Linked DNA regions of Homo sapiens. The protein of the gene in region 5 interacts with the protein of the main gene of each other region in a pairwise test. Each region holds a gene or a part of one and is shown on either strand. Other genes may lie near its edges. The genes, in order: CCDC90B, CPNE2, HUNK, KLHL23, ANXA7, TAF5L and PAAF1.

Evidence for each region.
Region 1: the proteins of ANXA7 (region 5) and CCDC90B interact in a two-hybrid assay, tested with the Homo sapiens proteins (one large-scale study listed by BioGRID and IntAct).
Region 2: the proteins of ANXA7 (region 5) and CPNE2 interact in a two-hybrid assay, tested with the Homo sapiens proteins (one large-scale study listed by BioGRID and IntAct).
Region 3: the proteins of ANXA7 (region 5) and HUNK interact in a two-hybrid assay, tested with the Homo sapiens proteins (one large-scale study listed by BioGRID and IntAct).
Region 4: the proteins of ANXA7 (region 5) and KLHL23 interact in a two-hybrid assay, tested with the Homo sapiens proteins (one large-scale study listed by BioGRID and IntAct).
Region 6: the proteins of ANXA7 (region 5) and TAF5L interact in a two-hybrid assay, tested with the Homo sapiens proteins (one large-scale study listed by BioGRID and IntAct).
Region 7: the proteins of ANXA7 (region 5) and PAAF1 interact in a two-hybrid assay, tested with the Homo sapiens proteins (one large-scale study listed by BioGRID and IntAct).

What each region holds. Positions count from the first base shown.
Region 1 is NC_000011.10:83,279,868-83,283,367, reverse strand, and holds part of CCDC90B (coiled-coil domain-containing protein 90B, mitochondrial isoform 1 precursor), read left to right. Parts: intron 1-3,107; coding exon 3,108-3,227; intron 3,228-3,500.
Region 2 is NC_000016.10:57,120,083-57,123,582, forward strand, and holds part of CPNE2 (copine-2), read left to right. Parts: intron 1-1,010; coding exon 1,011-1,109; intron 1,110-1,591; coding exon 1,592-1,678; intron 1,679-3,331; coding exon 3,332-3,391; intron 3,392-3,500.
Region 3 is NC_000021.9:31,871,795-31,875,819, forward strand, and holds the start of HUNK (hormonally up-regulated neu tumor-associated kinase), read left to right. Parts: upstream 1-1,225; 5' UTR 1,226-1,880; coding exon 1,881-2,141; intron 2,142-4,025.
Region 4 is NC_000002.12:169,740,332-169,743,831, reverse strand, and holds part of KLHL23 (kelch-like protein 23), read right to left. Parts: intron 2,448-3,500; coding exon 2,295-2,447; intron 1-2,294. Other genes in the region: PHOSPHO2-KLHL23 (kelch-like protein 23), read right to left, coding at 2,295-2,447.
Region 5 is NC_000010.11:73,404,059-73,407,558, reverse strand, and holds part of ANXA7 (annexin A7), read left to right. Parts: intron 1-3,500. UniProt on the Homo sapiens protein: Calcium/phospholipid-binding protein which promotes membrane fusion and is involved in exocytosis.
Region 6 is NC_000001.11:229,609,123-229,612,622, forward strand, and holds part of TAF5L (TAF5-like RNA polymerase II p300/CBP-associated factor-associated factor 65 kDa subunit 5L), read right to left. Parts: intron 1,089-3,500; coding exon 984-1,088; intron 1-983. UniProt on the Homo sapiens protein: Functions as a component of the PCAF complex. The PCAF complex is capable of efficiently acetylating histones in a nucleosomal context. The PCAF complex could be considered as the human version of the yeast SAGA complex.
Region 7 is NC_000011.10:73,883,499-73,886,998, reverse strand, and holds part of PAAF1 (proteasomal ATPase-associated factor 1), read right to left. Parts: intron 1-3,500. UniProt on the Homo sapiens protein: Inhibits proteasome 26S assembly and proteolytic activity by impairing the association of the 19S regulatory complex with the 20S core.

The DNA.
Region 1 (3,500 bases), on a different chromosome or scaffold from region 5:
GCCTAGATTTTGCTGATTTCATTCATCCTGTCTGGATAACTTCTCTCAGATTTAATATAGTTCTACCATCATCCAAATAGCCATTCTTGATCCTTTATTCTCAAGGAGGGCCAAATGCTTCTCCTTTGTATTATTCATCATTGTGTATACATAATGCCAAGCACAGTGCCTTTCATTCAGCAAGTATCTATGGAGCATCCAGAATTGTGTAGGCATTGGGGATTCAGTAGTGAGCAAGAACAGATGTGGTCCCTGCTCTCAAGGACTGTATAGTTTAGTGCAGGGGTTGACAAACTTTCTGTAAAGAGCCTAATAAATATTTCAGGCTTTGTAGGCTGTAAGGTCAGTCACAACTATTTGCTTTGCCACTGTAGCATGAAAGTAGCCATAGATTAATCCATAAATGAATGAGCTGTGTTCTAATAAAACTATCTAGTTCTAATGAATAAAACTAGAAAAACAGGCGGTGGTAGTCTATGGGCTATAGTTGGCTGACTGCTGGTCTCTTGGGGAGACAACTGAGAGTCACATAAATGTGTAAATTATGAGAGGGTTTGCAAAAGAATCCTGTGCAGTACTATGAAAAACCATCATGAGAGAGACATAACCTAAAGGAGTCATCAGGCTTTCCAGAGGAAGAAACATTCAGACTGAGCTCTGAAGGATAAACATGAGCAGGCAAAGAAAAGGAGAGCTTTCTGAACAGGGCAGGGGCTAGGCAAAGGCCCTGAGAAGGGAAAGCACATGGCATGTTTGTGGAATTAAAATCAAAGAGCCCTTGAAAGCAGAGGACCAGAGAGAGCATAGTAGGACATGAGACGAGCTGCACCCTACAAAGATTTATTGGCTTGTTAAGGTATTTGGTCTCTATCCCAAATTTAGCAGGAAGCTGCTGGTATTCAGAGTGTTTGTTGACTAAGTCAGAGGAACTGTACTAATCTGCCTAGCTATGAGACCATAAGATCTCAGACTAATTACAGACAGTCCTCAACTTAAGATAGTTTAACTTAAAAATTTTTGACTTTACCATGGTGCAAAAACAGTGTGCATTCAGTAGAAACTGTACTTTGAATTTTGATCCTTTCCTAAGCTAACGATAATGCAGTATTCTTGCAATACTGGGCAGGGGCAGCAAGCCGCAGCTCCCAGTTAGCCATTGATCACAAGGGCAAACAACCAATACTTAGTATTGCCAGGGTTTTTGGGTTTTGTTTTTGCATCCCATCGTGTTTACAAAATGCCCATCTGGGTGTCTACATGAAATATTCAACACTTTATTATAAAGTAGGCTTTGTGTTAGATGATTTTGGCCAACTATAGGCTAACGTAAGTGTTCTCGACAAGCTTGAGGTAAGCCAGGCTAAGCTGTGATGTTCAGCAGGTTAGGTGTATTAAATGCATTTTCAGCTTAGGATATTTTCAATTTATGATGGATTTATTGGGACATAACCCTTTTATAAGCTGAGGAGCATCCATACTTAGCCCTGAGCCTCAATTTACCTCATCCATAAAATGAGAATTTTAAGGATGGGGTAATAGATGTGAAAACAGTAAAATATTATTTAAATATTATTACTGATTTTTTTTTTCTAAATCCAAATAAACTTCTAATCAGGAATATGTAACTAAGAGTACCATCATTACTCCTAATGCAGTTGTTATTGAAACTACTGAAATCTGCCCCTTTTTCCTCTAATTTTTCTTTTTCTCTCCTACCTTAGGTCTGATATTTACACACAAAGGCATAGTTCTTTACCCTTCTAGATGACATTCAAGTGAAAAAGATTACTGACCAGTGTACTAATATGTGTGTTTTTAAAAATTGCTCCACCTTTATTTACAGCTACTTGCTTTTATCTCTTCAGTTAAATAGAATTTTTTGGAGTATTTTAATGAATCTTTTATCATTTGAATTTAGAGTTTATTGTTAGATTTTTTAAAAAAAACAATATCTGTTTCCTGCCTTCTAGTCCATAAAATCAGTGAGAATATCATTTATGTCTGGTTTTGCTTATGATTTTATCCCCTATGCCTGGCACAAGTTCTAGCACTCAATCAATATTCATTAGGCTAGAAGGATATAAAGAAGGAATCACATTTGTCCTACACAGTACTAGTGGAAAAATAATGCCTGAAGTTGCAGCCTTTTAAATATCTAGATATTTTAAGTGACTTAAGATACATAAGAGAGACAGCATGGAGTGTAAGATTTGGAGTCAGAAGTACCTGAGTCTGAATCCTAATTCTGCCATTGGCTCTGTAAAGGTAACTCCTTCACCTTCCCAAAAGTTGTTTATGGGCAGGGCACCTTGTAATAAATTCATCAGCAATATATAGAAAAGGTCTTTACTGTGTCTAGGTTAAAACTTGGGGAATTTATTGAAATAGGACAAGAAGGGTTATTTCAGAAATGAGAAATTTTTCTTAGGGTTCTTATGTTGATACCAGTAAATACGTCCATGATTTCAAATCAAATTCATTGATTGAATCAACAGTAAAACTTGGTGGCCCAACTATGTGCCAAAGCACTGTTCTACGTGCTAAAGATACAGTAGTGAAAACCACAGTCAAAGCATCATGGAACTTCCATTCTGATCCAGAGATACAAACAGCAAATAAGATAATTTCATGTTGGAGCTGAGAACTACGTAGGAAATAAACTGTGGATATATAAGTGAGTGGGAGTATGGAAAGCTACTTTAAACAGGGATTAAGTGTAAAAAATTTTCATAGCTCTTTGAAAGACTATTACTGAGCACAGAGAAGAATTGAATTGTGCAGTTTCTGCTTTTCAGTAATTAGAGCTGAGGTGGTGATAACCAAAGCATTTGATGTGTGTTTTATTACAAGTTTATACTGACTCTTAACATTTCTGAATACCAAAGGAGGGAAAAGAAACATTTATTGAATGTTTGGTGTGTACAGAAGAACGTCAGAGACTTTTCAGATAAAAGAGAGGCTCAGAGGAGTCAATTAACTTGGGTGAGATGACAAAACTAGAAGAGCTGGAACTATATTATAAATGGATGGGGAAAATGCTTTGTAAGCTAAAGTAGCTTTGTAAGCTATCAGTTACTACAAAAGAAAAAAATTGTCTTCTCTTTCAGAGTTCTTCACTACCACAACCAAGGAGGGATATGATAGGCGGCCAGTGGATATAACTCCTTTAGAACAAAGGAAATTAACTTTTGATACCCATGCATTGGTTCAGGACTTGGAAACTCATGGTGAGAAACATGGATACCTCCTGAAAGAAGAAAATTAATAGCACTCATAATGCCTAGTTAAGACAATATCACTATTATGAACAATCAAAAGTAACTAAATAGATGTACCATCCATACAATGAAATATTTTATAGTCACTAAAAATGATACTGTTTGAGAAATATTTACTGATATGGGGAATGTTCAAGATATGTTAATTGAAAAAAGCATATGAAATAATATGTGCAGAATTATTCCAATTAAGTGAAAAAAAACTAGAGTTTCTAGGTTAAA
Region 2 (3,500 bases), on a different chromosome or scaffold from region 5:
GCCAACATGGGAAAACCCCATCTCTACTAAAAATACAAAAATTAGCCGAGCATGGCGGTGCACGCCTGTAGTCCCAGCTACTCAGGAGCCTGAGGCAGGAGAATCACTTGAATGTGGGAGGCGGAGGTTGCAGAGCCCAGATTGAGCCACTGCACTCCAGCATGGGTAACAGAGCAAGATTCTGTCTCAAAAAAAAAAAAAAAAGTTATAGGCCGGGCGCGGTGGCTCATGCCTGTAATCCCAGCACTTTGGGAGGCCAAGGTGGGTGGATCACGATGTCAGGAGATTGAGACCACCCTGGCCTCTCACGTGAGGCCTCTCACCCACCCTCTCACGGTCTTTAGTAGAGACCGTCTCAAAAAAAAAAAAAAATTATAAAATAAAATCAAATAAATAAAAAATAAAAGCTCTTGGTCCCCAGGGGCTGGGTCTGAGAGCAGATGGGACTGGGGAGACAGCTAGGTCAGGACAGAGATTCCCAAGTAGGATACCAGGAATCTTAGGTTCTAGTACTGGGTCTGCTACTGCTGCTGTGAGACTTTGGGCAGGTACATCTCTTTCAGGGCCTCAGTTTACCCATCAGTGGGATGGGAACAATAATCCCTGCCTTCCTCCTAGGAGGGCCATAGCAGCTCAGACAGCATATAAAGCTGTGATTTCTGTGCTCATCTCAGAAAAAAATATGTCTAGAGAGGGCCCCAGGCCATAAGCTGGGTGGGTCACAACCCGAGGTGGAGGGGGAGCCATTTGCCAGGTGTATAAGGAGTGGAGTTGCCTGCACTAGAGGGTACAGCCTCCATCAGTGGGGCAGACACACTTTCTCCTTTTCCCAGCAATCACAGAAGTCTTCCTGCAGGAGGCAGTTCAGGAGCTATCCAGGCCAGCTAGGCAGATGCTGAGGAGAGGCACTACCCAAACAGAAGACAGAGGGTTTGCTTGGGGAGTTGAGAGGGGCTGGAGAGCACCTCTTGGGGGACAGCTCTGGGGTGACCGTGCTGAACCCACCCCAGGTCATGTGCTACGACTATGACAATGACGGGGGCCATGACTTCATCGGCGAGTTCCAGACCTCAGTGTCACAGATGTGTGAGGCTCGAGACAGCGTCCCGGTGAGATGGGCACGTGTACTGTAACCCCAAGACCTCAGCAGGGCTGGGGGAAGGGGCACCGGGTCTTGGGTCAGGCAGCCTGGGGCTGAGATCCCCCTTCTGGCTGCATGACCTTGAGCAAGGCATTCAATCTAAGACTCAGTTTCTCCATCTGTCAATGGGGGCAGAGGATTTGGGTGGGGATTGAATGAGATGATGCAGGCGAAGTGCCCAGCATATAGTGAGCAGTCAGGAGCTATCCATTTAAGTCATTCCGTGATGTTGGGCCCTCAGCTGGACAGTTTGGGGGTGCGTTATCTGGGGAGGAGGGAGGCAGATGCTGATCCTGCTACCATTTTTGGGTGTGGACATCCTGGGAGGCTCCCTGGAGGAAGCATGCTGCCCCCATTGTCAAGCCTGTGGAAGGGATTCTAGGGCCAAGGAGGAGGATCTGTTTCCAAAGAAGCCCCGAGGTGAGTGTCTCTTTCTTTTGCGTTGCCCAGCTGGAGTTCGAGTGCATCAACCCCAAGAAGCAGAGGAAGAAGAAGAACTATAAAAACTCGGGCATCATCATCCTGCGATCCTGCAAGGTGAACCAGCGTGGGCAAGCACGAGCCAGGGGCCAGGTTTCAGGCCACACAGAAGGGACAGACAGAGCACTGGATCTGGAGCCAGCGAGGCCTGTGTTCAAATCCCGGCTCTGCCACATCCTGGCCCTATGGCCTTCTGAGCTTCACCTCACCAGGCCTCAGTCTCCTCATCTGTGGAATGGAGATATTAACGAGGCAGAGCATGTCCAGGGTTACTCTTCTCTCACATTCCTGTGTGGAGGCCAGGGAAGGCACGAGCTGACCTTCCAGGGCCTGTCCTGGTGGGAGAATTGTCATTGCGAGTTGCTGCCGCCCACGGTGGGCATGCAAGGGGCAGAGGACATTGGGTGGGGACACCCTGTCCTCTCTGGCATCAGCGTCACTGTGACTCCCATGGTACAGCCGGGGCCACTGAGGCCCAGAAAGGCAATGAAGTTCATGTCAGCAGTGGCCAGGCTGTGGGTGGGGGCCAGAAGACCTGGTGGGCAAATAACTGCTGGATCTGGCAGAACATTAAGGAAGGCAGCCTGGGGCAGGAGAGCAAGAGACCTGGGCTCAGGGCCTGACAGCTCAGGAGTCTGGCCGCTGCTCTCCACCAGCAGGTGGATCCCAGACTCCCACCTTATTTGGAGCCTCGTCTGGCTAGGGTTTACACGAACATTCAGTGGTGTCACGACAAAAAAGCACTCCGTTAAAGGTCAAGATGTCAGGTTGCAGCCTTGTGATGGATGGTCCTTGTTTCTGAAGTTTCCATCATTCACATCACTTTTCACAATTTCTGGCACCTGCCTTACTTATTTTTTTGAATCAGTCTTTCTTCCCTGTATTATTGTTTTTTGTTTTTGTTTTTGAGACAGAGTCTCACTGTGTTGCCCAGGCTGGAGTGCAGTGGCGTGATCTCAGCTCACTGCAACCTCCGCCTTCCAGGTTCAAGGGATTCTCCTGCCTCAGCCTCCCAAATAGCTGGGATTACAGGTGCATGCCACTACGCCTGGCTAATTTTTGTGTTTTTAGTAGAGATGGGGTTTCATTATGTCGACCAGGCTGGTCTTGAACTCCTGACCTCAAGTGATTTGCCTGCCTTGGCCTCCCAAACTGCTAGGATTACAGGAATGAGCCACTATACCTGGCCTGTTTCTTTTCTCTTTTTTTTTTTTTTTAACTTAAATACATTTATTTAGAAAGAGATTATTAGAACTCTACCAAAATTAAAAGATCTGCCTTCTTTGCCAAAAAGAGACAAAGACCATCAAAACAACTTCTAGAGGAAGGCCTTGAGCTGGAGGCCTGCTCTTTCTCTTTGTTAAAAAGGTAGATTAATAAGGGCCAGGAGAAGGTAAGTACCTAACAGTGACAAATTGAGACACTCTGTGTCAGGTAACTGACACTGGGCCCTGGCACCCTGCCTGGAACCAGCATGTGTCTGTGTATCTGTGGGGTGTGGGGGTCTCTGTGAGTCCCCCACCCATTAGGAACCATTGCACTGAAGGCTTTGTTATAGAGAGATTTGGGTTTTGTTGTAATTAGATCAGGCCCATCAGCTTTTTTTGACCTCCTTGTCCCTACTGAGGTTGCAGGACATAGAGCAACAACTCCCCCATGGGGAGTGTGACCAAGTCAAGGGGACCCACTGACTCATCCGCTTTCTTCCAGATAAACCGAGACTACTCCTTCCTTGACTACATCCTGGGAGGCTGCCAGCTCATGTTCACCGTAAGGCTCTCCCCGCTGGCTCCCTCTGCACCCCCATCCCAGTGAGGGTCCTCCCTGAAGACTTGGGCCACTAGTGCAGCCAGAGGGACTTAGGGTAGACTTCAGGAAG
Region 3 (4,025 bases), on a different chromosome or scaffold from region 5:
ATGAACGTTACTGAAATAGTCAAGGCCGGTGGGAGCAAAGAAGTCCCTTCAGCACAGCAAGAAAAACATTTTAAGCTGTATCTTTAATATTGGTAAACGGGAACAATGAGACAGAACAACAGAAAACGCAGTATGTTCCGTCATAATAACTGAGGCTGGTGACTTGTAACAGGTAGGTGGATGAATATAGTAGCGTATTTAAAATTAGATGTATTGAAAGCAGGCATTTCTCTGCGTCCCTCTTCAGATGGGTCAGCGAGACCCCCAGACACTGGATTGATGACAGCTGTTGTTCCCCCACCCCCCACTCCCAATCTCAAAGCATTGCTATGGGTCGATGTCATACTTGTTTACTCAGGAATAAACAATGAAAGGAACTTTGTTAGGACCAAATCCTTCCTTTCAGCTCTGATGTTGCATGATCGGGGTGAAGTTTCCATCAAATGCGGGCACCTCAACAGGTAGCATTTTGTAAATGCCTCCTCCTACCTACCCTCCTCCTTCTCCCTCACAAGATTCTTCATTTTCGGTTTGAGAAGACGTTGGGGATCCTGGGAGAGGGTCCAGTGTCGTCAGGGCAGTTGCAATTGTTTATGCGATGAGCACAGTCACAGCGCTTGCAGAACAAAAGCATCGAAGAGAGGCGAGCGCCGGTCCACCTCCTGCAATCACAGGCATCATTTCAATGGAAGGCAAAGAAGGTGTAAGCTACAAGCAGAGGCAGCAAACGCCCTGGTTCCTACATTGCTGCTGCTACTATTACTGCTGTGGCTGCGCCTCCTCCAACACAGCCAACCAGGCTGCGTGCGAGCCCGGGCAGACGCCTGGCCGCCTCCCCACCCTTTCTTCCAGCCATCCATCTATCCTTCCACCCCCGGTCCAGGGGGCCCTACTGTGTGGCGGACTCAGGGCCGGGCACGCAACCCGACTCACAGTCCACGGAGTTCGAGAGCCTTCCCCCTTCCCCCCGCCCCGGGTGGGTGCGGCCAGTGGGGGATTTCACCGCCGAAAGGTCCAGAAAACCCAAGCCCAGAATCCGGGCAAGAGGCGCAGCCGGAGGCGGCCCGACCTGGGCGGCCCGGGAGCGCGCGCCTCCGAGGCCGCGCAGGTTCTCCCTGTCTGGCGCTCAGGTGGCTTCTCCGTCCACTCCGCCGCTCCCCTCCCCGGGCCCTCCCCTCTCCAGCGAGGGTCGAGTTTGACTGTGGCGCGCGGGGAAGGAGGGGCTACTAGGGATTTGAAAGTGCACGGGCTGCGGAGTGGAGCTCGCATCTGTTCCCGCCGCCCGCGAGCGGATTAAATTTCTGCAAATTCAAACTGAATGGGGCTTTCTTCTGCTGCCTTCCAGAGGGCGCCGGCAGCCCGCCGCGCGCTTCTCTCCGGCGGGAGCGGCCGCCCAGCGCACGGCTAGGAGCGATCGCGGGAGCCCGACCCAAGCCCGTGCGGGCCAGACGGCGGCGGCGAGGCGGAGGCTGCGGAGGCACCCGGGCTCCCGGACCCAGGCACCCGGACCCCGGGACCCAGGCGCCGCCGGACCGCGCCCCACCCCGCGCGCCCGAGCAGGGCGACTGTCATTAGCTTCCTGGACGGGACCCGGGGCGGGATCCTGGTGTCCTGAAAGGGGCCCGGGCGACCCTAAGAGGAAGAACTTTTGGGGGCGGGGTCCCCGGTCCCGCGTCCCCTGGGCAGCCGCTATTGTCTACGCGCCTCGCTGGGCGGCGCGGGGGGCGTGATCGCGGCGGCCCCGGGCTCTGGGTGCGGAGACCCAGGCGGGGCTGGGCCCAGGGCGGCGGCGGGAGAAGCCGGGGAAGCCGAAGAGCCTGGGGAGGAGGAGCTGCGAGCGCGGGAGACGAGCAGGAGCCGCGCGGGCCGCGGCGAGCGCGATGCCGGCGGCGGCGGGGGACGGGCTCCTGGGGGAGCCGGCGGCGCCTGGGGGCGGCGGCGGCGCGGAGGACGCGGCCAGGCCCGCGGCGGCCTGCGAGGGAAGTTTCCTGCCTGCCTGGGTGAGCGGCGTGCCCCGCGAGCGGCTCCGCGACTTCCAGCACCACAAGCGCGTGGGCAACTACCTCATCGGCAGCAGGAAGCTGGGCGAGGGCTCCTTTGCCAAGGTGCGCGAGGGGCTGCACGTGCTGACCGGGGAGAAGGTGAGTCTCCCGGGCGCCGTGGGGCTGGGGCACAGGGGCGGGAGTCGGCGGCCAGGACCCCGCGGGGAGCACTGCACTGGGAGTCCCAGTGTGCAGTCCCGGGCCAAGCGCCTTCCCCCTCCGCCCGGCTTTCCTGTTGGGTTAAAACGCGCGCTCAGCATCTCGCAGCCTTTCCCGAAGGCGGCCTGCGGTCCGCTGCCCGGGGGTTGGGGGCTTGGGAGGGGACGGCCTTGCCCCGGGAAGCGTCCCGCGCGGCCGTTCTGCTCGTGGAAGGGCGCCGCCTGGCGACACTAGCGCGGGGGGCGGGATGGGGCCCCTCTGCCCTTCAGGCCGGCAGGGGCGGCGGATCCGTGGCGAGGCGGGAACCAGGGCTAGAGGAGGTGGGCTCTTATGTCGGGGGGCGGGGGGGGCAGGAAAGCTAACAGCCAGCCTCTGGGGGGAGCTTAGAGTCTGATCCCCGTCCTGGGCTCTCGGAGGAGGTGGGAGAAGGCTGAGATCCTGCATTCCTTCCCACCTGTGGGCTCCGGCAGCTAGGGAATGTTTTTTGGCAGCTAGGGAATTTTTCGTGCTCAGAGGAGGGTTTTTGCCTCCGCCCTCCACTTGTCCATCCCTCAACCTGTGCTCCTCTCTATCCACTCAACCCTCCCACCCCTGCCCCCTCATCACCCACCATTCTCATCCCCGCCATTCTCATCCCCTTCTCTCCGTTCCCCCAGCTCCTCTGTGCCCTCCAGCCTCAGGGTGGGAGCTGCAGTGAAGACCCTGCTACTGGCAGGAACAGAACTACAGATACCTCCCCCCAGAGACTGGGAGATGCCTTCTTATCTTTCTAGAAGAGGGGAAAGGAAAGGGGACCTCCGCGAGACCAAAAGGGGCACCTCTCCAGCCTTGTTGGAAGTTAGATGGTTGTGAACCCTTGCCAGGCGAGGGGCAGGTAAGATGGAAGGTGTAACTTAGAGCTGTGAGAAGAAACCCAAGAGCTTGGTGACTCGCTTTTGAGGCCGGGTCACCCCAGGCTGGAGCTGCCCGAGCTCAGAGCCAATCCAGGCTGGAGCTGTCCCAAGCTCCTGTCATCTCGGGCTCAAGACTGCCCCCAGGCTGGGGGTGGCTCAAACCTGGAGGGGGACCAGCTCCTTTGTGTGGTCCGTGGGTCAGGGAGGCGTCAGCCGCAAGGAGGGAAGGCGGAGTTCACTTCCCAACCGAGCAGGTGGCCTGGGAGCCGAGCCCTCTGCCTTCCGACCTGGGGGCCTCTGCCCAGCCTGGGGCTGCCCTGTGAAACCCCTGGTCACAGGGCCAACCTGCCCTTCCTGCCTGTCTCTAGCCTCACCCCACCTGTAGTTCCCTCCCCACCCCATTTCCCCTCTTTGTCTTGGAGCCTTTTGCCTGTGAATGCAGGTCTCCGTCACCCTTGTCATTTTCCCTGTGTTCCCTACAGCCGTTTTGAGTGAGGCACCGCTTTATTATGGGTATGTGGGGATAGAGTGAGTAGTTTTTAGAAGTGCCTCCTGCCTGAATTCCCATGCAAAAAAGGAGCGTTCAGTATGAACTTGAGTAAGTCTTCAAAGAAAAAGGAAAAACCTCCAAACCTCGTTCTAGTCCGCAGGAGCGAGGCACACTTACACTCCTCGATTCGATTCGATTCGATTCGTAGTGAGCTGTCTGACTTCCACACTGCGGGTCCGTTCAGGGCGCGAGGATGCGGCTAATTAGAGTGAGCTCTCTTCTCCTGGCCCTGTGTAAATTCCTGTTGGCACTGGCGATGGAAGTTTATTTTCATTGGAAACGTATAGGATTCAGGCTGGTTGTGCATATTTCCTCTCTAAACATAACGGAAAGAAGCGAGTCTTTATGCTCACAACGTCATGGCAAACACTGCAAGTACAT
Region 4 (3,500 bases), on a different chromosome or scaffold from region 5:
AGCTTAAGGATTTAACAGACTAGCTGAGCAAAGCCAGCTGGGAGCAAGAAAAACAACGGCACAGGCCCCCTAGGTCAGTGACGTGAGGAGAATTGGAAGGACTGTGGTGAAACGGAGCACACAAGCCTCATTTAGGGGAACAGCTACCCCCTGGCTCCCGTGACTGCTGCCTAGAAGGAATACATCCAAGGCTGCTAGGTCTTCCCTTTTCTTTTAAAGGACAGAAATAATGATTTTTACTTGAAATTCTCTTAAATTTTAAATATTGGTAACAAGCCAGTTCAAAAATATTTTAAGGACTGTGAAAGCTAAACAGAACACATCATGCAAGGTACTGATTTAAAATCTGTTTTTTATGTTTCATCAGGAAAAAGTTCAATGTAAATCAAAACTACATGTGGATGCATATTATGTTACCATTGATTTATATTATAATTTAACATTTATTTTGGATTTTCAATTTGCCATGACTTATTAATACTTTGGATTAAGTCCAAAGTGACACTGTCTCTCAGACTCTTTTTCATGTAGTTAATAAGCTATATGAAATCTGTTATGGAAAACTTATTTTTGAGGGAAACTCTTAATGACATATACATTAAATTTATAATATAAATAACTGCCCTCTAATTTGTGAATTCTGACTTTTCATGTATCGGATTTTCTTTGTAAAGATAAGCTTATCCACAAAATAGGCAGAGTAACATCTAACTTCTAAGGGTAACATGAGGTTCAGGTGAGATAATAGTGAAGTTCAAGCCAGTCTGTCTAGGTTTGAACCTCAGTTCTAATAAGCACTAGCTGGCTAACCTTGGGCAATTTATATAATCTCTTTGACCCTCAGTGTCCTATAAAATGTGATAAAAACAGTACCTAGCTCATGGAATTATTTTGAGGTTTAAACAGATTATACATGTAAAATTACTGGAATAGTTTGTGCCTGCCACACACTGACTGAATAAATGCTAGCTATTTCTCACTGTGAGTTGTTACTATTCCTTTCCATTATAACTTCACTGATCACAGCAGAAAGTGGTGGGGAGTCTGGGATGGTCCATTTGGGCTACTAGGAGGGAGAAGTTTACCCATTCCATGGTGTCTTTGCAGCCAGGGAAGCCTGGGGCTAAAGTTCCTTCTCATGCAAAGCCTGGGCATATGGAGATGCAGCACCAGATTTAGGTGTGCTTCAGATTAACCATCATATGGGATAGATGATGTATGGGCTGGAAGTAGCTGCCTTGGTTGAAAGCAGGAGAGTCTGCTCCCTGAAGGAGAGACAGATTGTTTAGTGGCTACAGCACAAGTTATGGAATCAGACTGTCAGATTTTGAACCCTGGTCTACCACTTTCAAACTGTGAAACTGTGACCTTGGAAAAGTTACTTATTGTTTCTAAGCCTCCATTTCCAAATATGTAAAATGGTGACAAACAATACCTGCTCACAGACTTGTAGTGAGAATCTGAGGTAATACACATATGAAGTGCTTAGCCAGTGCCTGATCTATGGTAAGTATTACTAGTCCTCTCAGATGGTTCCAGCTTGTGAATTTCCACTACCCCCTCCACTGACCCACATGGAAGCCTGATGCTCTATGGAAAATGATTCAAGGTAACATGGTGGTACGATGATATGAATCTTTCCTAATGAAAACAACTTAAACCTATGGCATAACTGAAACAGACTAAAACTTGTGCTTCCCTCTGAGCTCTTCACAAAGACACAAGTCAAAGAACAGAAGACATCCAAGAAGGTAGGCCATTCCTTATGGGCAGACAGCATGTTCCCTGTATGAGTGTTAAGGTAAGGCCAACATATGGCTCTGCACATTGTAGGAGTGAGTGCTTAATAGTAAGTGAAACCTAGAAAGAACATGCTTCTAAAACAGGAAACAATTTCTAGCTGAACTTCAATCACTGGGTACCCTTTCTGACTATTTGATAGAATGGTGCTTTTCAACTACTTATGAACATTGTATTTTATATAATTAATGTCATAAATGAAAGATGGCATATAAAGGAAAAAAATTTTAAAGACGCTAATATTTTTGACCACACAGACTTACAATGTGCATTGTATAAAGACATCAGGGAAAATATTTGTAGATGTGACCCAATCAGAATCTCATTGTGATTATTGTTAGATGGACATATATGAATATTTTGAGACTTTTAATTCTACCCATGTGTAGTCTACAATAAAATCAGCATTTTCTATTTCCAGTCCATTTTTAGCCATCCTTTATGCTACTAAACTACATCACAACATACACTATTTGAGACAGTATTTTTGTTACCTGGATGTGGACTGGAGGTGATGAGGCTCCATTCGTTGATATCGGAATTGTAGCTCTGAACTTTGTCATAGGTGCAGCTTCCTCTGTAGCCACAGTGGCCACCAATGACGTAGATAACATCATGTAAGACACAGGCAGTAGCATTTCCCACACCTACGTATTAATTAAAATCACATCTTTAGATTGATCTTTTGTTCTTTTTTGCAGTGAACCCTGGGCTAAATTTATTGTTGTTTTTGTTATTACTGATGGTAAAATGCAAGGTACTGTGCTAAGTGCTATAAGGGACAAAAGAATAAAAAAGGAAGGCTCTTTGTGCTCTTAAGAGAGGGTGAGACGTGCACACAAACACAGCCATGCACCACGCACAATGATCTCCATAAAATTATAATGGAGTGGAAAATGTCCTATCACCTAGTGATACTGTGGTAGCTGTTTTAAAGACATGGCATAAAGCATTCTCATGTGTTTCTGGTGATGCTGTTGTAAATAAATCTACGCCTCTGGCAGGTCCTTCAAGAGGTATTCCAGAAGAAGGCATTATTATCATAGGAGAGGATAGCTCTATGCCTGTTATTGCCCTTGAAAGCCTGCAAGTGGGACAAGATGTGGAGGTGGAAGACAGTGATATTGATGACTCTGACATTGATGATCCTGACCCTGTATAGGCCTCAGCTAATGTGTATGTCTGTGTCTTACTTTTTTAACAAAAAAGTTTAACGAGTAAAAAAATCAATAAATAAGTTATATATATATATATATATATATATAATATAAAAAAGCTTATAGAGGCCGGGCGCAGTGGCTCACGCCTGTAATCCCAGCACTTTGGGAGGTCAAGGTGGGTGGATCACGAGGTCAGGAGATTGAGACCATCCTGGCTAACACGGTGAAACCCCGTCTCTACTAAAAATACAAAAAATTAGCAGGACGTGGTGGTGGGCGCCTGTAGTCCTAGCTACTCGGGAGGCTGAGGCAGGAGAATGGCGTGAACCCAGGAGACTGAGCTTGCAGTGAGCCAAGACAGTGCCACTGCACTCCAGCCTGGGTGACAGAGCGAGACTCCGTCTCAAAAAAAAAAAAAGCTTATAGAATAAGGATAAAAAGAAAGTATTTTTATAAGCTATATAAAGTCTACAGTAATGCCTGTAATTCCAGAAGTTTAGGAGGCTGAGGCAGGGGATCACTTGAGCCCAGGAGGAGTTT
Region 5 (3,500 bases):
TTAGGTGTAGATCCAGAAATCCCAAAGTATTCTGGTATCAGAGTGTGAATCACAGACCTGCAGAATCCATATCACCTGAAAGCTTTAGAAATGCAGAATCTCAGGCCCCATCCTGGAGCTACTGAATTAAAATCTCTATTTTAACACGATCCCTAGGGATTCATATACACATTAAAGTTTGAGGCCAGGTACAGTGGCTCACGCCTGTAATCCCAGCACTTTGGGAGGCTGAGGCAGGCAGATCACTTGGGGTCAGGAGTTTGTGACCAGCCTGGCCAACATGGTGAAACTCCGTCTCCATTAAAAATGCAAAAATTAAGCAGGTGTGGTAGTGCGCACCTGTAGTCTCAGCTACTTGGAATGCTAAAGGAGGAGAATCGCTTGAACCCAGGAGGTGGAGGCTGCAGTGACCCGAGATTGTGCCACTGCATTCCAGCCTGAGCAACAGAGCAAGACTGTCTCAAAAAGAAAACATTGAGAAACACTATTTTAGTCAACTACGTTGTTCAAAGAAGGAAGAGAGGAGACTTGAGCTAGATAGGAGGGGTGAGTAAGCCCAGGCTTGAGGGCCAAGTCAGTTAATGATAAGAATGGCTTAAGCAAAGGAATGCTGGGAATGGTTCAAGTGATAGAGATTTCACGTTGAGGGTTAGGTGTTGGTAAGAAATGAGTTAAATAGATAAATAGAGGGTGGGTGTGGTGGCTCATGCCTGTAATCCTAGCACTTTGGGAGGCTGAGGCGGGTGGATCTCTTGAACCCAGGAGTTCAAGACCAGCCTGGGCAGCATGGCGAAACCCCGTCTTTACTAAAAATACAAAAAATTAGCCAGGTATGGTTGTGTGCACCTGTAGTCTTAGCTCTTCAGGAGACTGAGATGAGAGGATCATCTGAGCCCAGGAATTCGAGGCTACAGTGAGCTGATGTCACACTACTGCACTCCAGCCTGGGCGATAGAGCAAGAAACCATCTCAAAAATATATGTATAATAATAATAATTGGAGCCAGTACTAAGGAGACCTGTATATCAGGCCAATTAATTTTCATTTGATACTCCAGCAGTAGTCATTGATGATTTTTGAGCTGAAGAGCAATTTGCTGAAAGAGCAGCATTTTAGGAAAGTTTAGCTAGTGACAGTGTCTGAGAAAATTGGGAGGGTGACAGAGTATAAGCAAGAATATAAACAGAGGAGGAGTTTTAGTAAGACAGGCATCAAGTGATGAAACTTGGTCTAAGTATATGACCATGAGAACAGAAATTACAGAAGAGGCATTTCAAAGGATGGATAGAAAAACACTGGTTTTGGCCGGGCGCAGTGGCTCATGCCTGCGATCCCAGCACCTTGGGAGGCCGAGGCGGCCAGATCACCTGAGGTCAGGAGTTCGAGACCAGCCTGGCCAACATGACGAAACCCTGTCTCTACTAAAATACAATAAATTAGCCGGGTGTGGTGGTGGGCGCCTGTAATCCCAGTTACTCAGGAGGCTGAGGCAGGAGAATTGCTTGAACCCAGGAGGTGGAAGCTGCAGTGAGCCGAGATTGCACCACTGCACTCCAGCTGGGGTGACAAGAGCGAAACTCTGTCTCAAAAAAAAAAAAGAAGAGAAAAATACTGGGTTTCTTACTATACTGGAGTATTAGGTAATTTAAGTAGTGGTGCTATTGACAGATAAAGGATGTTAAGAGTGGTGTGGTGGAGAATGACGAGTATTTTATTATACACATACAGAAAGCCTCCTGATTGACTTCTGTCTTAATCTGCTCCTTAGTCTATTTTGGTGATCATCCGTCTCACAGTTACGTCTCACCTTTTGCCTTGCAAATAACATTGTTCTACTTTCTTGCCTATCTGTGTCTAGCACCTTTAAAAGCCTGGTTTAAACCTTTGATCATTCACTCTCCACTTGTAGCAATGTTTTCTTGTAGATGCCAAAAAAGTGATTACTGACTTTATATAGATGTATTTGCCAGGTATATTATATCTGATCACTAATAGTATTTTAGATTTTTTTGTTGTTGTTGAAATGGAGTTTTGCCCTATCACCCAGGCTGGAGTGCAGTGGTGTGATCTTGGCTCACTGCAACCTCTGCCTCCTGGGTTCAAGCAATTCTGCCTCAGCCTCCTGAGTAGCTGGGCTTACAGGCACATGCCACCACGCCTGGCTAATTTTTGTATTTTTAGTAGAGACAGGGTTTCACCATGTTGGCCAGGCTGGTCTCGAACTCCTGACCTCAGTTGATCCGCCCACCTCAGCCTCCCAAAGTGCTGGGTGTATTACAGGCCTGGGCCACTGCACCCAGCCTTTTTTTTTTTTTTTTGAGACAGTATTGCTCTGTGGCCCAGGCTGGAGTGCAGTGGTGCAATCTTGGCTCACTGCAACCTCCACCTCCTGGGTTCAAGGGGTTCTCCTGCCTCAGCCTTCCAAGTAGCTGGGACTACAGGCACATGCCACCACACCCGGCTAATTTTTTGGATTTTTTATAGAGATGGGGTTTCATTGTGTTAGCGTGGATGGCCTCAATGTCCTGACCTTGTGATCTCCTCAGCCTCCCAAAGTGTTGGGATTACAGGCGTGAGCCACCGCGCCCGGCCCTAATTTTTGTATTTTTAATAGAGACAGGGTTTCACCATGTTGGTCAGGCTGGTCTCTGACCTCAAGTGATCCACCTGCGTTGGCTTCCAAAGTGCTCAGATTACAGGCGTGAACTACTGCGCCTGGCCGTGTTTTAGATTTGATCAGGCTAAGAGGGTATTCTTTTGAATGTTTGTTTTTTTCTCTGTTTATTTACATTTGCTTTAGGTTAATAGTGTTTTCTTCAAATGCAAAAGATATATATATATATATATATAGGGATATTTGTCTTTATCCACACTAGCTCCATTTATTTTACATGAGCCATCTTTTCAACAATGGACAGGAGAGTGTAATGAATCCCCATGTACTCATCACCCAGCGTGAGCAGTTATCAACTCCTGACTGCTTATTATGTCTAAATTCCTGCACTATATTATATAGAATATTCCTGCATATTATTTTGGCATAATCCCTGACATCGTATCGTTTTGTTTGTAAATACTTAATGTGTATCTCTAAAAGATCAGAATACTTGATGAAAATCATAGTACCATTATCACACCAAAAAAATAGTAATGTCTTAACATCACTTGATGTGCAGGTTATTGTTTACTTTTCCAAATGGAAATGAGCACCTTTTGAAGAACATAACTTTCAAACTTTCTGGTACAGACTGCAGTTTTTAAAAGATATTTCCAGTGTTATGTTTGCTGATCAGAAGACTATCAACTTTTGATCACCATTATTATCACAGAATAGATAATATATGAATGCCTCCTTAATCTCAGACTAACCACACTCTACCACCCTACTTTCTTTTTCCATCAGAAAGCATTCTAATTTTAAAATTATTCTAAGTCTAATAAAATTGAGAAAGTAAATGTACTGAAAGTGTTATAATGAATTAATAAAAGCCAAACTTCAT
Region 6 (3,500 bases), on a different chromosome or scaffold from region 5:
GATATGGTCCCCGCCCTCATGGAGCATATAGTCTAATGAGGAAAACAGACACAAAAGTAAATCACCAAATGTATAATTTTAATAGTGGTATATTCTGACTCATGACAGTGAGATGGCTCTTGTCATGGTCATGACTTATTTCTATTATGAGTGACACTCAGATGACCCTAATGACATTACATACATTTTTGTATTTTTTTAATCACTGAAGCATAGGTGTATAATAAAATAAACTCAATGGCATAATTTTATTGCTACAGAACTGTAATGATTTTTGCAGTGAAGTATTAATACACTCGGTTGATTGCTAAAGTGAGTTATCCTGGTGTAAATTTTTATGTTCACATCCCTTTCCGATTTATCTTCTGGGGCTCTTAATGTTTTTCTTCCTAATGTTCTACAGTATCTTTTTTATTCTTATCTCAAGTGGTCATTCTGCCACTCAAAAACTGGTCTAAATGACAACTTCTAGCATTTTTGCCTGTTCATTCATAAGGACTATTTACTTGCACTTTTGGAAATACGGGGCAAAGACCATTGTGAAATGTACTATATTATTAGTAGAGATGTCATGTACATTTCAAATGTGCTGTATTTAAGGATGCTTCTCTGCATAGCTGACAGTTTTTACTTATTCAATACAAGTCACAAGTCACTGTGCTGAAGGCCATGAATAAAACAGTGAATAAACACCCAGAGCTCTGCCCTTGTAAACTTAAACCTCGTGATTGAACTCTTCAGGAATTCCAATAGACCATAAGTTTGAATGCAAGAACTGTGTTAAGAGTACCTTCGAATCCCTAGTACCTCAAACCAATTGTGGAATATAGTTGGTTCTGAGGGAAATCTGCATTACTCTATTTTTTAATTTTTCTTTTTACCGCTCCTTGTGGAGCAGGGCTAACTCACAAGCAGTGTGCCCAAAGTTGGTCTGTATTACTCTGTTTTCTTAAAAAGAAAAGGTTCTAGAGCTGAGTACTTACCAGTGAGAAAATTCCGCAGTCGTCCAAACTGTACTTCATATTGCTGGGGTTCTGCCTGGCAAGGGGCTGCAGACACTATGTTGGCACAACCAGATTCTGATTGCACTAAAGAGGAGAAGATACACAAGTCAGGGCGGGAAACAGAGAGACGATTATTAACCCAGTACGTGGCAGGATGGGTGAAGGAGGGTGTTGTGCACACACGCACAGCAACTGACATTTCAGCAGGTTTCCAAAGCATGCTGGGTCCTGGTTAAACATGACAGACTGATGACACTTGTTTCTCTCCCCTCCCTCCTGAAGCCCAATAAAATGAAGGCCAGGGAAGGAAAGGCATAAAGCACAGGATAAGGTGAATGAGAGAGGACAGGTACATCAATCCATGAGATTCATCAGGAAATGTTTGATCCTATGTTCTGACATTTCACAGGTGCCTTGGTGTGGGTTCATTGTCAATCACTGTGCTGGGCACTTAGTGGGCCCTTTCAATCTGGAAATTCATGTCTTCTAGTTCTGTGAAGTTTTCTGGAATCATTTTGATAATTCCCTATCTTCCAAGACTCCTACAATTTCAAGGTCGGATATCCTGAACCAATCCTTTAATTTTTTTCTCCTATTACTCCATTTCTTTGTCTTTTTGCTCTACTTTCTGAAAGCCTTCCTCACCCTTCAGCCCTTCTACTATTTCCCCCTACATTACTTATAATACCTAATGAGTTTTTATTTTTTACTATCATGTATCTAATTGGTAACTTTTTTCATTCTCAACATTCTCTTTTCCCCTAAACACGCTATGCTTTTTGAATCTTAAGTATTTAAAACAAGGTATTTTTGAAGTTTTCTTCTGTTTCTTTCCATCTGCCCTTCTTATGAGATATGTTTCTTCTAGGGTTCAATGGCCCCTGGCTGTCTTACGGTGAGGCACTCTGGGTGGTGAGGCTCATCCTCCAGGGTGACCAGGGTGAGCAATGTCCCAACATCACTGTCTTTTCGTCTTTCTTCTTGGGCAAGTTGGACTCACCAGGGAAGGATTGTTTACTTGCCTTCCTGGAGCATGTGTGCCTGGCTGCAGTATTCCGGGCATATGAATTGGTGCAGGGGAAACAAGGCTGGAGTCTCAATATTCAGTATGTAAACACACACTTAATCTCCAATCTGTGAGTTTATGCTTTCTAAAAACAAAAAACAAAAACCATTCTCCTCCTGTTTACAAGAGGAGTGGGGAACACCGGGGAAAGAAGGTGGCTAAAAACCAAGGGAAGCCACCTTTAACCGCGTCCTGAATGAAACATGAATGCATTTTGTCAATGGAATATGGATGGAGAAATGGTGATGAATGTGGCAGGACTGAGGGCGCCATAACAGGAAATACGTAGAAAGGGAAACACAGGTGAGAGGAAAGCCAACCTACTCCAGGAGAAGGAAGAGACAGTCAGAAGAGAGGACCTGCTGCAAGCCTGCATGCAAGGGAGGGACTCCTCCTCCTTCTTCTTGCCCCCCGCTTAGTTACTCTGTCACTAAGTCCTACAGATTCCTAAAATATATCCTCTCCTCTCCACTCCCATTACCACTTCCTCAACTGAGGCTGTCCTCACTTCTCACTGGACTGCGTCTTTTAACTAGTTTCCTCGATTCTAATCTGGGCTGCCTTATCAATACTGCCACCAGACTGAGTTTTCTAAAATTCACATTTGAAAACCTGGATACCCTCCTCCAATTTGTTCCCTGGTAAACATCTAATGGTTCCTTTGCAACTCAGCTCACTCTTTCAACTATTTAGTGACCCCCAACTATATGTCAGGAATCACAAGGCCTTTTGGGGATCCTTCCTTGGCTTGCCAGCCTAATTTGGATGATCTTTTCTGCTACCACTGAACCTCCCCCTCACAGAACTTACTACCTCATGCTCTTCTACAATCACTGACTTACCTGCCTCACTTCCCAATTAGAACACTTAGCTTCTCAGAGCTAGGGTCAAATCGTAGCTATCTCTAGAACTTTTCAGCACTTGGCCTATAGCAGATGTTCACTAAATGTCTGCTGAAAAAAGAATTCTTCAGATTACTCAATTAATGGAAAAATCTAGGACAAAATCTTCTGATAATCATATTTCATGTTTCTCACTTTTCCTGGTGGTTTTCCAGCAATAACACTTTCTCCTAATAAGCTATTCTATTGAAACTAAGACAACTTAGACGAGCAAAGTTCTGGAAGTCTGTTTAATATTGTTCATTCCTACTTTCTATCAACAACAGCAAGAATTACTGCTCTCTGGTTCCAAAGGATGCAGGGCAGCAGATTTTTTAAATGGCTAGGATGGCATGTTCAGAAGGAATTACTCTACAATGGGACAGAGGCCTTGTAAATGGACTCCCCTATTCAAACAATAAGGCACTTAGTATTCTATACCAAGGCCATCATCTGGCCCTGTTTTGGTCAAGGGTATCTCTGAGGAGTTTGAAGGCAAGGAATAATGGGTGGATCCAACCCTGAAATACGTGATGGCAGGCTGCTGAC
Region 7 (3,500 bases), on a different chromosome or scaffold from region 5:
TGCAGAGATCACATGGTGAGAGAGGAAGTAAGAGAGAGAAGGGAGATGCCAGGATCTTTTTAACAATCAGCTTTCTCAGGAAAGAACAGAGTGAGAACTCAGTCACTCTCACTCTCCAGGGAGGACATTAATCTATTCATGAGGGGTCTGCCCCCATGACCCAAACACCCCCCATTAGGCCCTACCTCCAACACTGAGGATTAAATTTCAACATGAGATTTGGAGGGGTCAAACATACACACTATAGCACTAAACTCTAATTTGAAAGGGAATACACTTTCAAGACTAAAATACATTTTCTTTTTTTTTTTTTTTTTTTTTTTTTTGAGATGGAGTCTTGCTCTGTCGCCCAGGCTGGAGTGCAGTGGCGTGATCTCAGCTCACTGGAATCTCCACCTCCTGGGTTCACACCATTCTCCTGCTTCAGCCTCCGAACAGCTGGGACTACAGGCACCCGCCACCATGTCGGCTAATTTTTTGTATTTTTAGTAGAGATGGGGTTTCACCATGTTAGCCAGAATGGACTCGATCTCCTGACCTCGTGATCCACTCGCCTCAGCCTCCCACAGTGCTGGGATTACAGGCGTGAGCCACCGCGCCTGGCCTGACTAAAATACATTTTCAAGACTAAAAGCTAAGAACAAAGATTTAGAGATTTGATACAGCATTTGTAGAGAGGGCTTTTAGAGTGATCTCAACCTGATGTAACTGGCTGTGAAATGTAATTCTTCCAGGATGAAAGGTGAAGATCAGTATGCATACATGTATTTATCTACAGTATATACACATAATACATAGTAAAGAATTAAGCTTCAGTAACCTGTAAAATTTGCCTAAGTAGAATACTGATTTTGCAGAGATATGGGCTAAGTAAGATACTATCCTACACATAAACACACGCAGATGATAGAATGAAGTTAAAAACTGTTTCCATTCTTCTTCTACACCTTATATATTCATGTCTATAACAGCCCATAACACACTGTTTACATGTCTGACTTGCCCAACAGACTGTGAAGTCCTTAAGTCTAGCAGGGTGCTACATTCATTTATTATTCAGTAAATAAATGTTGAGCCAAACTGAAGTTACAGGAGAGAAGCAGAAATCATCATGGATTCACACAAGAGTGGGAGGGATTTTTTTTTTTTTTTTTTTGAGATGGAGTTTCACTCTTGTCGCCCAGGCTGGAGTACAATGGCGTGATCTCAGCTCACTGCAACCTCCACCTCCTGGGTTCAAGCAGTTCTCATGACTCAGCCTCCCAAGTACCTGGGATTAAAGGCACGTGCCACCACACCTGGCTAATTTTTGTATTTTTAGTAGAGACGGGGTTTCACCATATTGGCCAGGCTGGTCTTGAGCTCCTCCCCTCAGGTGATCCACCCACCTCAACCTCCCGAAGTGCTGGGATTACAGGTGTGAGCCACCACGACCAGGCCGGGAGGGCTTTCTAGAGAGTATAGGAGCCTCAAAGAAAGATAGGAGCTGGCTAGGAAGAAAATAGGGAAAAGAAAACTCCAAGTCAAGGAGGAGCATATCAAGAATAAAAGAAAGTCAGCCGGGCATGGTGGCTCACACCTGTAATCTCAGCACTTTGGGAGCCCAAGGTGGGTGGATCACAAGGTCAGGAGTTCAAGACCAGCCTGGCCAACATAGTGAAACCTCTTCTCTACTAAAAATACAAAAATTAGCCAGGTGTGGTGGCACGTGCCTGTAGTCCCAGCTATGATACTCAGGAGGCTGAAGCAGGAGAATACCTTGAACCTGGCAAGCAGAGGTTGCAGTGAGCCGAGACCACGCCATTGCACTCCAGCCTGGGTGACAGAGTGAGACTCCATCTCAAAAAAAAAGAATATCACGCCTGTAATCCCAGCACTTTGGGAGGCCGAGGCGGGTGGATCACGAGGTCAGGAGATCGAGACCATCCCGGCTAAAACGGTGAAACCCCGTCTCTACTAAAAATACAAAAAATTAGCCGGGCGTAGTGGCGGGCGCCTGTAGTCCCAGCTACTTGGGAGGCTGAGGCAGGAGAATGGCGTGAACCCGGGAGGCGGAACTTGCAGTGAGCCGAGATCCCGCCACTGCACTCCAGCCTGGGCGACAGAGCGAGACTCCGTCTCAAAAAAAAAAAAAAGAATAAAAGAAAGTCAAAAAGAACAAGAAGGAAGGATTCATCAATTAATACACCAGTTTGGTAATAGCAGTCATGGAAATGATAGTTGAGGGATAAATCCCAGAGAAACTCAAAGTCTAGGGTAGAAGTTTGGCCTAGAGAAGACCTAGTAAAGACGCTTTTCACAGGGAAGTATCATGAAGCACTATTTCAGAAAGATGCCACAAAAACAGAACTGAAGCAACTTCACTTTTTATCCCACTCCATGATTCCCTATTGTGTTTACCAACTGCCTTAAGAAGTCTGGCCCTCATGGTGCATCATTTCAACCAATCACTCAATGACTTCTCCACATTTGTGGATGTATATATATGTATTTTTTTAATATTTGAGACAGGGTCTCGCTCTGTCACCCAGGCTGGAGTGCAGTGGTATGATCATGGTTCACTGCAGCCTCTATCTCCCAGAATCAAGGGATTCTCCCGCCTCAGCTTCCTGAGTAGCCTGCATGCCACCATGCCCAGCTATTTTTTTTATTTTTATTTTTAGTAGAGACAGAGTCTCACTATGTTGCTCAGACTGGTCTCGAACTGCTGGGCTCAAGCAATCCTTCTGCCTCAGCCTCCCAAAGTGCTTGGATTACAGGGTGAGTTACCCTGCCCAGCTGACTTCTCTACATTTGTGAAGTCACTAAAATGACCTCAGCCTTGGTTTTCTCTATATAATAGCAGAACTAGGATCAATCCAACCACTTACCTTCTACATTCCTACATGCAGGCTGCTGAGTACTGCTCCAGAAAAGAACACAACTGTGCCGACTGTCACCAATCCAATTCATGTTTCTAAACTCAGCAGTTTTGTAATCCTTTCACCCCTCCCATTCCCCACAGCAGCTGGTTCTCATGCCATCTATCCTGCCATCAAAATCTCCTTCCTTCATAATAGCCAAAAACTAGAAATATGTGTCCATTAATTGATGAATGGATAAACAAAATGTAGTATATCCATACAACAGAGTATTACCGGGCCACAAAAAGGAACGAAGTACTGATAAAAACAACAAATAGAAACATTATACTAAGTTGCCTGTAATCCCAGCACTTTGGGAGGCCGAGGTGGGAGGATCACTTGAGGCCAAGAGTTCAAGACCAGCCTGGCCAACATGTCGAAACCTCGTTCGTCTCTACTGAAAATACAAAAATTACCCGGGTGTGGTGGCAGGCGCCTGTAATCCCAACTACTCAGGAGGCTGAGGCACAAAAATCACTTGAACCTGGGAGGTGAAGGCTGCAGTGAGGAGCCGAGATTGTGCCACTATACTTCAGCCTAGACGACACAGTGAGACTCTCAAAAAAAAAAGAAAGAAAGAAACATTATACTAAGTGA